2 linked regions of the Homo sapiens genome follow. Changing the gene in region 1 together with any one later gene gives a genetic interaction. Each region holds a gene or a part of one and is shown in the gene's direction. Other genes may lie near its edges.

Region 1 (3,500 bases):
GATGTCATTCTGCTGAGCTTGCACTTAACGTAATCACGTAAGTTAATGTGACAGTGTTAATCAATAGACATAACTGTTATCCAGTCCAGCTGGTTCGTAAATCATTTTATTGGTGTTTGCTCATTAGAGGAAAGCTGACTGATCCATAAAATCAGATTTTCTTTATTGAATGGACATTTCTAATGAGATTAAGGTAATAGTTCGGCATTCACTGTGCAGTTCTGATCCTGCTGTGACTCATATGTTCTTTGGCTTGCAGGCCCTGTCCTGTTCTGTTACTTCTCATGGGATTTCAGGGGTCAGGGTCTTCCTAAGGAATCCTTTTACCTTTTCCTGTCCTTTTAATCTTTTGTCTCTTTGAAGTTGTGATATCTGGTCTGAGGAACAAATATGCTCTTCCAGACTTCTGTTAGCTAGAGTAGAGAAAGTTGGCATACTTCTTTTTTTTTTTTTTCTTTGAGATGGAGTCTCGCTCTATTGCCCAGACTGGAGTGCAGTGGCGCGATCTCAGCTCACTGCAAGCTCTGCCTTCCAGGTTCAGGTCATTCTCCTGCCTCAGCCTCCTGAGTAGCTGGGACTACAGGCGCCCTCCACCACGCCCAGCTAATTTTTTGTATTTTTAGTAGAGACGGGGTTTCATCGTGTTAGCCAGGATGGTCTCAATCTCCTGACCTCATGATCCGCCCACCTTGGCCTCCCGGCATACTTCTTTCAGTGACAAACTTTATAGTGACCACAAAGCCAATAGGAAAAGAGGCCATGTAATTTCTTCTTGTGGCTAGCCATAAGAACACCTTTAATGTCTCTTAATTGATTTGTAAGCTGAATGTGAAAATCACCATAAAATTGGCAATTTGTGCTTTGCAAATTGAAAGATCCACTGAAACTTTCTTTTTTAGGTGTTTAAGCAGTTGGGAATTTGGACAGGTACTAGGATTAATGAAACTGCCATTTTCTATTTCCTGTGGGATGCATTTTGTTACTTAAAGTTATACCTTATTTGTTAAAATTTAATGGGAGTTATCTGTGGCATCTTATATTTAAGATGTATTTGAGGTATTATTTCTGTAATTGGTGAATATGTGCTGCTGGATAACTATGAAAAGCCAGAACAGCAATTCCAAGGCCTTTATGTCAAATACACATGACTCAAATTCCTTACCTATACAGTTGTAGTTGGGGAATATCTACGGACTTAGGAAGTGTGCAGAATATGAGGTTGTTTTATTATAGTTATAGGTATAACGACAAAGCATGTTTTAGCATAGAACTTGAAATTGGTGGATTTCATTCACTCCTCGGTTTCAGTGGTAACAGGAATTTTTCAGAGTGGTTACAGAGAAGTAATGTTGACTTTAATGAATAAAAGTATTGCAGCACTGATTATGTCCTTTTTGCATTGATTTTGAAATGGGATTAGACCAGGGGTTGGCAAACTGTTACCTACCAGGCATATCCAGCCCATTAGCGTTTTTAGAACACAGTTTCTTGGAATGTAGCACACCTATTCGTTTATATATCACCTATGGCTATTTTCATGATACAGCAGAAAAGTTAGGTAGTTGCAACAGAAACTGGTTATAGGGCCTGCAAGGCCGAAAATATTTACTGTCTCTTTAAAGAAAAAGTTTATCCACCCCTGGATTAGACCACTGAACTACTAATCCTACCCTTTCTAGCTAAGTAACTGAATGGACCATAATCCAAAATTCTTAACTGCCATAGCTTACATTGTATTCCAGATTGCCATCTGCCTTGTACTGGGCCAAATTCTGAATATCTATGAGTACTTGAGGGGTGCTTCTCAAACTGCGAAGGACTTTTTTAAAAAAAAATCACTAGATGTATACTTTTGTAAAATTCAATAAAAAATGAATTACTAGAAAAGTGAAGACAAAAACATAAGCTCAAGTTTTATTAGATTCAGCAGTCATAAAATTATTATATCAAATTGCTATTAAAAATTTCTAGGGCCGGGCACAGTGGCTCATGCCTGTAATCTCAGCAGTTTGGGAGGCTAAGGCGGGCGGATCACCTGAGGTCGGGAGTTCGAGACCAGCCTGGCCAACATGGCGAAACCCCGTCTCTACTAAAAATACAATAATCAGCTGGACGTGGTGGTGGGTGCCTGTAATCCCAGCTACTTGTAAGACTGAGGCAGGGAGAACTGCTTGAACCCTGGAGGGGTCACAGTGAGCCAAGATCACGCCATTGCACTCCAGCCTGGGCAACAGAGCAAGACTCTGTCTCAAAAAAAAAAACAAAAAAAAAATTATGAAACACAATTCCTGTACTTAACTCACTGCAAACTGGAAACTGTTCATGGACCAGCTCTGGTACTTGCTACCATGAGTAGTGCTACTTTAGGACTAAATATTTGTTTTCCTTGATCTTCAAAATTATTTTACCTTTAGTTTTCATGACACAAAAACTGTTTTGTCATTGTCAGTCAATACAAGTGAAACCAAAGTTCCCTTTGATCAAAACCCAAATCTGTCATGACCTCAGAAGTTACTTAGCAGTTGTTTACCTTTGCCAGCCTTTTCTCTGCACGTATATCCATATATTTATGAAATAAGCAGCGTTTTTTTCTTCTTTGCATTTTTCATACATATTGTACAATGGGTGATTATCAATGCTTAGCTTTTGCTAGTCTGGGTGAAAAAGTATCACATTGGTATTTTAATTTGCATTTTCTTGATTATGGGACATTGAACTTTCCATACTTAACAGTCACTTATATTTCATCTGTATTGCTTATTTATCCCCTTTGCCCAATTTTCTGGCTTTTTTGTTTGTTTGTTTGTTTTTGAGATGGAGTCTTGCTGTGTCACCCAGGCTTGAGTGCAGTGGCGTGATCTCACTGCAACCTCTGCCTCCCGGGTTCAAGCAGTTCTCCTGCCTCAGCCTTCCAAGTAGCTGGGACGACAGGTGCATGCCAACATGCCCAGCTAATTTTTTTTTGTATTTTTAGTAGAGACGGGATTTTACCGTGTTAGCCAAGGATGGTCTCAAGCTCCTGACGTCGTGATCCGCCCGCCTCAGCCTCCCAAAGTGCTGGGATTACAGGCGTGAGCCACTGCACCTGGCCACATTTTTGTGGTTTGTAGTGCTTTATAGATTCTATATACAGTCATCCTTCAGTATCCATGGGGGATTGGTTTCAGGACTTTCTGCTCATAACCACAATCCACAGATGCCCTAATACAAAATGGCGTATTTGCATATAACCTATACACATCCTCCCATATACTTTAAATCATCTCTAGATTACTTATAATACCTAAATACAATGTAAATGTTATGTAAATAGTTATACTGTATTCTTGAGGGAATAATAAGAAAAAATTCTGTACATGTTCAGTACAGATAGAATTTTTTTCCTTATTTTCAATCCGCAGTTGGTTTAGTCCACAGATGTGGAACCCACAGGATACAGAAGGCTGATTGTACTTATTTATATATGATATATTATTTATATATGATATATTCTATTGTTT
Region 2 (4,018 bases), 5.4 Mb from region 1:
ACAGGCGTGAGCCACTGCGCCCAGCCGCATTCTTGTTTTCATCTGTGAAATACGTTTTTAAGGTAAATACTTAAAGTTGATGGAGACACCTGGTCTACTTAAGCTCTCATTCAGAACACACTGCCTTGTGCTTTTAAAAAAATTAAATGGATAATCTAAATTGGCAGCTACCAATTAATTTATATCCATAGTTGCTAAAAAATGTTAGTGTAAGTTCATTTTTATTAGTCGCATCATTTTGAGTTTTAAACTATTTCACATGCAGTAAAATTTATACCTCTTATGGGTTTTGTCAAACAGTGGTTTAGTCACCAACACAATCACGGTATAGAAGCTCTCAAGCTCCTTTTCAGTCACCCCCTTCCTCCAGCCCTTTGCCCTGGTCGCCACTGATCAGTATTCTCTCCTTTTAAAAACACTTATTATTTGGAAATAATTATAGACACAGGAAATTGCAAAAATACTACAGCACCTAGAGTCCCGTGTACCTATCACCTAGTTTCCTCCAATGGTGACATCTTACACAACTGTAGTACAAGATCAAAAAACTATGTCATGTAGTTTGAAGGCAGGTTTTCCTTTCACTTCTTCGCCTGCATTTTCTCCTTTCATTTCCAACAAATTTAACTCTGTTGTTAGAAGGAGCAGATGCTAGTTTTCTTTCAGATGTCTGCTATTTCAGTTCGATTACCCCTGTTACTCCTACATTTTTTCTAGTCTTTATCCCCATCGTTTCGCCCCAATTTAATTTTGCTGCTAGTTTTTTTTTTTTCTCCTCTGGGATATGTGCCACAGATGGTACTATTGTCAATATTCGAATTCCTAACTTCTCCCTCCATCCGTAAGTTTTCAAGGGGTAGCCGTGCTTGTGCTTAATTGTGGTGTTTACAGGACTTTTTGTAGCGTAAGCATGCTGGCATGGTTCCCCAACCTCTTAGGGGGATGCTAGTAACCCGCTCCCCCGTCAACGAGCCGCCTTTGTGCTCCGCGGAGGGCACCGCCTGCGTTGGGTTGGAGGTGGGGGTTGGCGGGGGAGAGCTGCCCGCCAGGCGAGGGGCGGGGCCTTGGCGGGGGTGGTCGCGGGCGGCGGGGAGGTCTCGCTTCCCTCCTCTCCACCCGCTCCCAGTCCCGGCCTGGGTCTCAGCCCCGCCCTGCCCAGAGCGCGCGGCCGATCACGTCACCGGCCTGCGCTAGGCGGCCCCCACGGCGCGGGAAGGCGCAGTGCGCACGCTCCGACTCGGCCGTGGCGGACCTGACTGAAGGAGGCCGCGGACCTGACTGAAGGAGGCCACGGCCACTTCTGGTTGGCCTCGGGGCGCGCTGGCTCGGCTCTTCCTCCGCCCTCGAGGCCCCCGCAGTCCCATCATTCAGTTCCGTAGGGTCACCGGCGCGGCAGTGGCCTCGCAGGGCGCTGGGTCCCTCTCCCCAGCTCTCCTCCCCCTGGCCCCGTCGCCCCGCCCTCGCCGGGCTGGGCTGCGGGGTCAGGGGCCGAGCGGAGAGGGGTGAGTATTCCCCACAGCCCTTGCCGGTTGTCTCCTCCCGGCTCTGCTTCCCACACGGTCCTTGCCCCACTCCTAGGACAGGGAGGAAGGGCACGCGCGGGTAGGCGGGAAACAGCCCAGTCCTGAACAAAAGGCCGGGGAAGCGGGTCCCCGCCGGTAACTGCAGGCCTGTGCTGGCCGCCGCGAGCGGGGAAGGGCGAGGACACTCCCTCCTCGGGGACCCGGTCCCCGTCGCGCACACGGTGTCACCAGCACACCTGGCCCAGTACCCAAAGCACCCTCGAAGTGGGTAGTAACTACTTTGTGTTTAAAATCCACATACTGATAGCAAATCTTTGGTTGAAACAGTATTAAATTACTGGGGCTTCCAGTGGCTGAGTCCAACTTAATTTGAAGTTTCAGATTAAGTATCAGGAGGAATAACTTGATATTTAGAGCCAACAGGTCTTTCTTTTTTTTTTAAACCTCCCAAAAAACCTATAAAATCAAGAATTGGCGGGGAGGACCGGAGAATGATAAAGGAATAGTTGACTGATTTATAGAAACTTTTAGTGGCGGTAAAAATTACAAAAGTATTGGAAATAAGGCAAAAGGACAGCATGTTTTTTTCAGAGTCAAAATGGAGCCTAACAGGCCCACCTGAAGATGATTTAGATGTCTAGGGGACTATATTTTGTTTGGCATGATGATATTGATTAGGGCCTAGGCTTTGTAGTTAACATCTTTTTCATTAATGGAGATGCAAATTATTTCTGAGTGGGAGAGAAAAAAATACAGTACTCCTAAAGGTTGTAGTTTTAGTGCCTTGTAGGATATTAGCCATTTTTCTTTTCTTTTTTTTGAGACAGAGTCTTGCTCTGTCGCCCAGGCTGGAGTGCAGTGGCACGATCTCGGCTCACTGCAACCTCTGCCTCTCGGGTTAAAGCAATTCTCCTGCCTCAGCCTCCCGAGTTGCTGGGACTACAGGTGCCCGCCACCACGCTCAGCTAATTTTTGTAAGTTTAGTAGAGACGGGGTTTCACCATATTGGCCAGGCTGGTCCGGAACTCCTGATTTTGTGATCCGCCTGCCTCGGCCTCCCAAAGTACTGGGATCACAGGCGTCAGCCACCGCGCCCGGCCAATATTAACCATTTTTCTGTCTAACCTATCAAACTTACCATCCTTTCTTCAGTGTTTATGCTCAGTTCCTGAAATGCTTTTGAGCACACTAAGCCATTCAGCTTGTTCCATTGTGAGTTTAATAAATCTTTGTCACAGGTTCATTTTGAGTCATATTTATAACTTTTGTTATTGGACAATGGTCTCTATTCTTTAGTGGCAAAAACAAGTTTATGCTTCTCAGGATGGAAGGACATAGGCCCTGTGTGGTACTCAAATACATCTTAGGACTCCAAGTAGAATCCTTTCTCATTGCTTCAGAAAGGTTAAACAGTGACCAGAGGAAATGTTACAGAACTTTGACCAAAAAATAAATCCTGAGTATTGAGAAATTAAAATTAAAGTCTTGCAAATTGCAGAGTTTAAAAATTGTTATTGATATTTTAAATTGAAGAAATTAGTGGAAATAGTAGTTCTAAATTGCATACATTTGAATGTGGAGTGTTAAAAGATTATTTCCCTTGTCTCCTGTTTTATTTAGGATAAGGTTAACTGAGATTTTGGTACATGGTGGGCCATTCAAGTTATGTATAATGTTTTGTGACAAACTACATGTCGACAGTAGTTCCTGATGCCTAATACATTTCTGAGAAAGGTAAAGCAGCCCTTTAGGAAAAACAAGGAGAGTAAAGCTTACAGAAGATTTCTTAAGATGGGCTTGATTTGATTATCTTTGAAACCTAGAGATGTGTTTGGGACCCAGGAGGTTGTGTTTGAATCATAAATATAATCAGGGAACCTTAAGAAAAAAAAAGCCATGGAGATCATTTGGTGATTATCTATTGAAAACAAATGTTTTCAGGGGACAAGCAGCCTGAGTATAATAAAGCAATTAGAAAGTTGGGGAATGGAGAATAGGAGAATAAGCTGTACCTGAAGGAATCTTAATTAGGGAATGGTTGCTGAAAACTGCAGAGACAAGACTTCTCTAATGTGCTTACCTGATCACATAGTTTTATAGGATCCAGGAAGAGGGCTTAGTAATAGGAGTGTAGCTTTGAAGCTAGGGTTATTTCATATCACTGTCATGTAACATCTTTCTGAGAAAACCTTTTTATCATCTCTTCTGAGCTCAAGAACCTACACTGGTTTCCTATTGCCAATTGTTTTAAATGGAATCTCCTTTGGGTTTTTTGGTTTCTTCTTTTGGTTTTTTAAGAAGTGGGGTCTCTAAGTTGCCCAGGCTGGAGTGCAGTGGCTATTTAGAGGCACAATTAGAAGGCACTACACAGCCGTGACTCCTGGCTCAAGCAGCCCTCCTGCCTCAGCCTCCTGAGTAGTGAGGACTAAAGGCGAGAGCTATGTCTCCAAGCTTCCTTTGAGTTTTAAGACTGTAAACTTCCTGCACCCTGTCCC

The links. Genes that interact genetically often act in the same process or in processes that back each other up.
Region 2: of CCNH (region 1) and ATG10, changing one suppresses a phenotype caused by changing the other (phenotypic suppression), as found in Homo sapiens cells (one large-scale study listed by BioGRID).

What each region holds. Positions count from the first base shown.
Region 1 is NC_000005.10:87,395,931-87,399,430, reverse strand, and holds part of CCNH (cyclin-H), read left to right. Parts: coding exon 1-37; exon of another isoform or gene 38-38; intron 39-3,500. UniProt on the Homo sapiens protein: Regulates CDK7, the catalytic subunit of the CDK-activating kinase (CAK) enzymatic complex. CAK activates the cyclin-associated kinases CDK1, CDK2, CDK4 and CDK6 by threonine phosphorylation.
Region 2 is NC_000005.10:81,970,805-81,974,822, forward strand, and holds the start of ATG10 (ubiquitin-like-conjugating enzyme ATG10), read left to right. Parts: upstream 1-1,218; 5' UTR 1,219-1,502; exon of another isoform or gene 1,503-1,787; intron 1,788-1,804; exon of another isoform or gene 1,805-3,257; intron 3,258-4,018. UniProt on the Homo sapiens protein: E2-like enzyme involved in autophagy. Acts as an E2-like enzyme that catalyzes the conjugation of ATG12 to ATG5. ATG12 conjugation to ATG5 is required for autophagy. Likely serves as an ATG5-recognition molecule. Not involved in ATG12 conjugation to ATG3.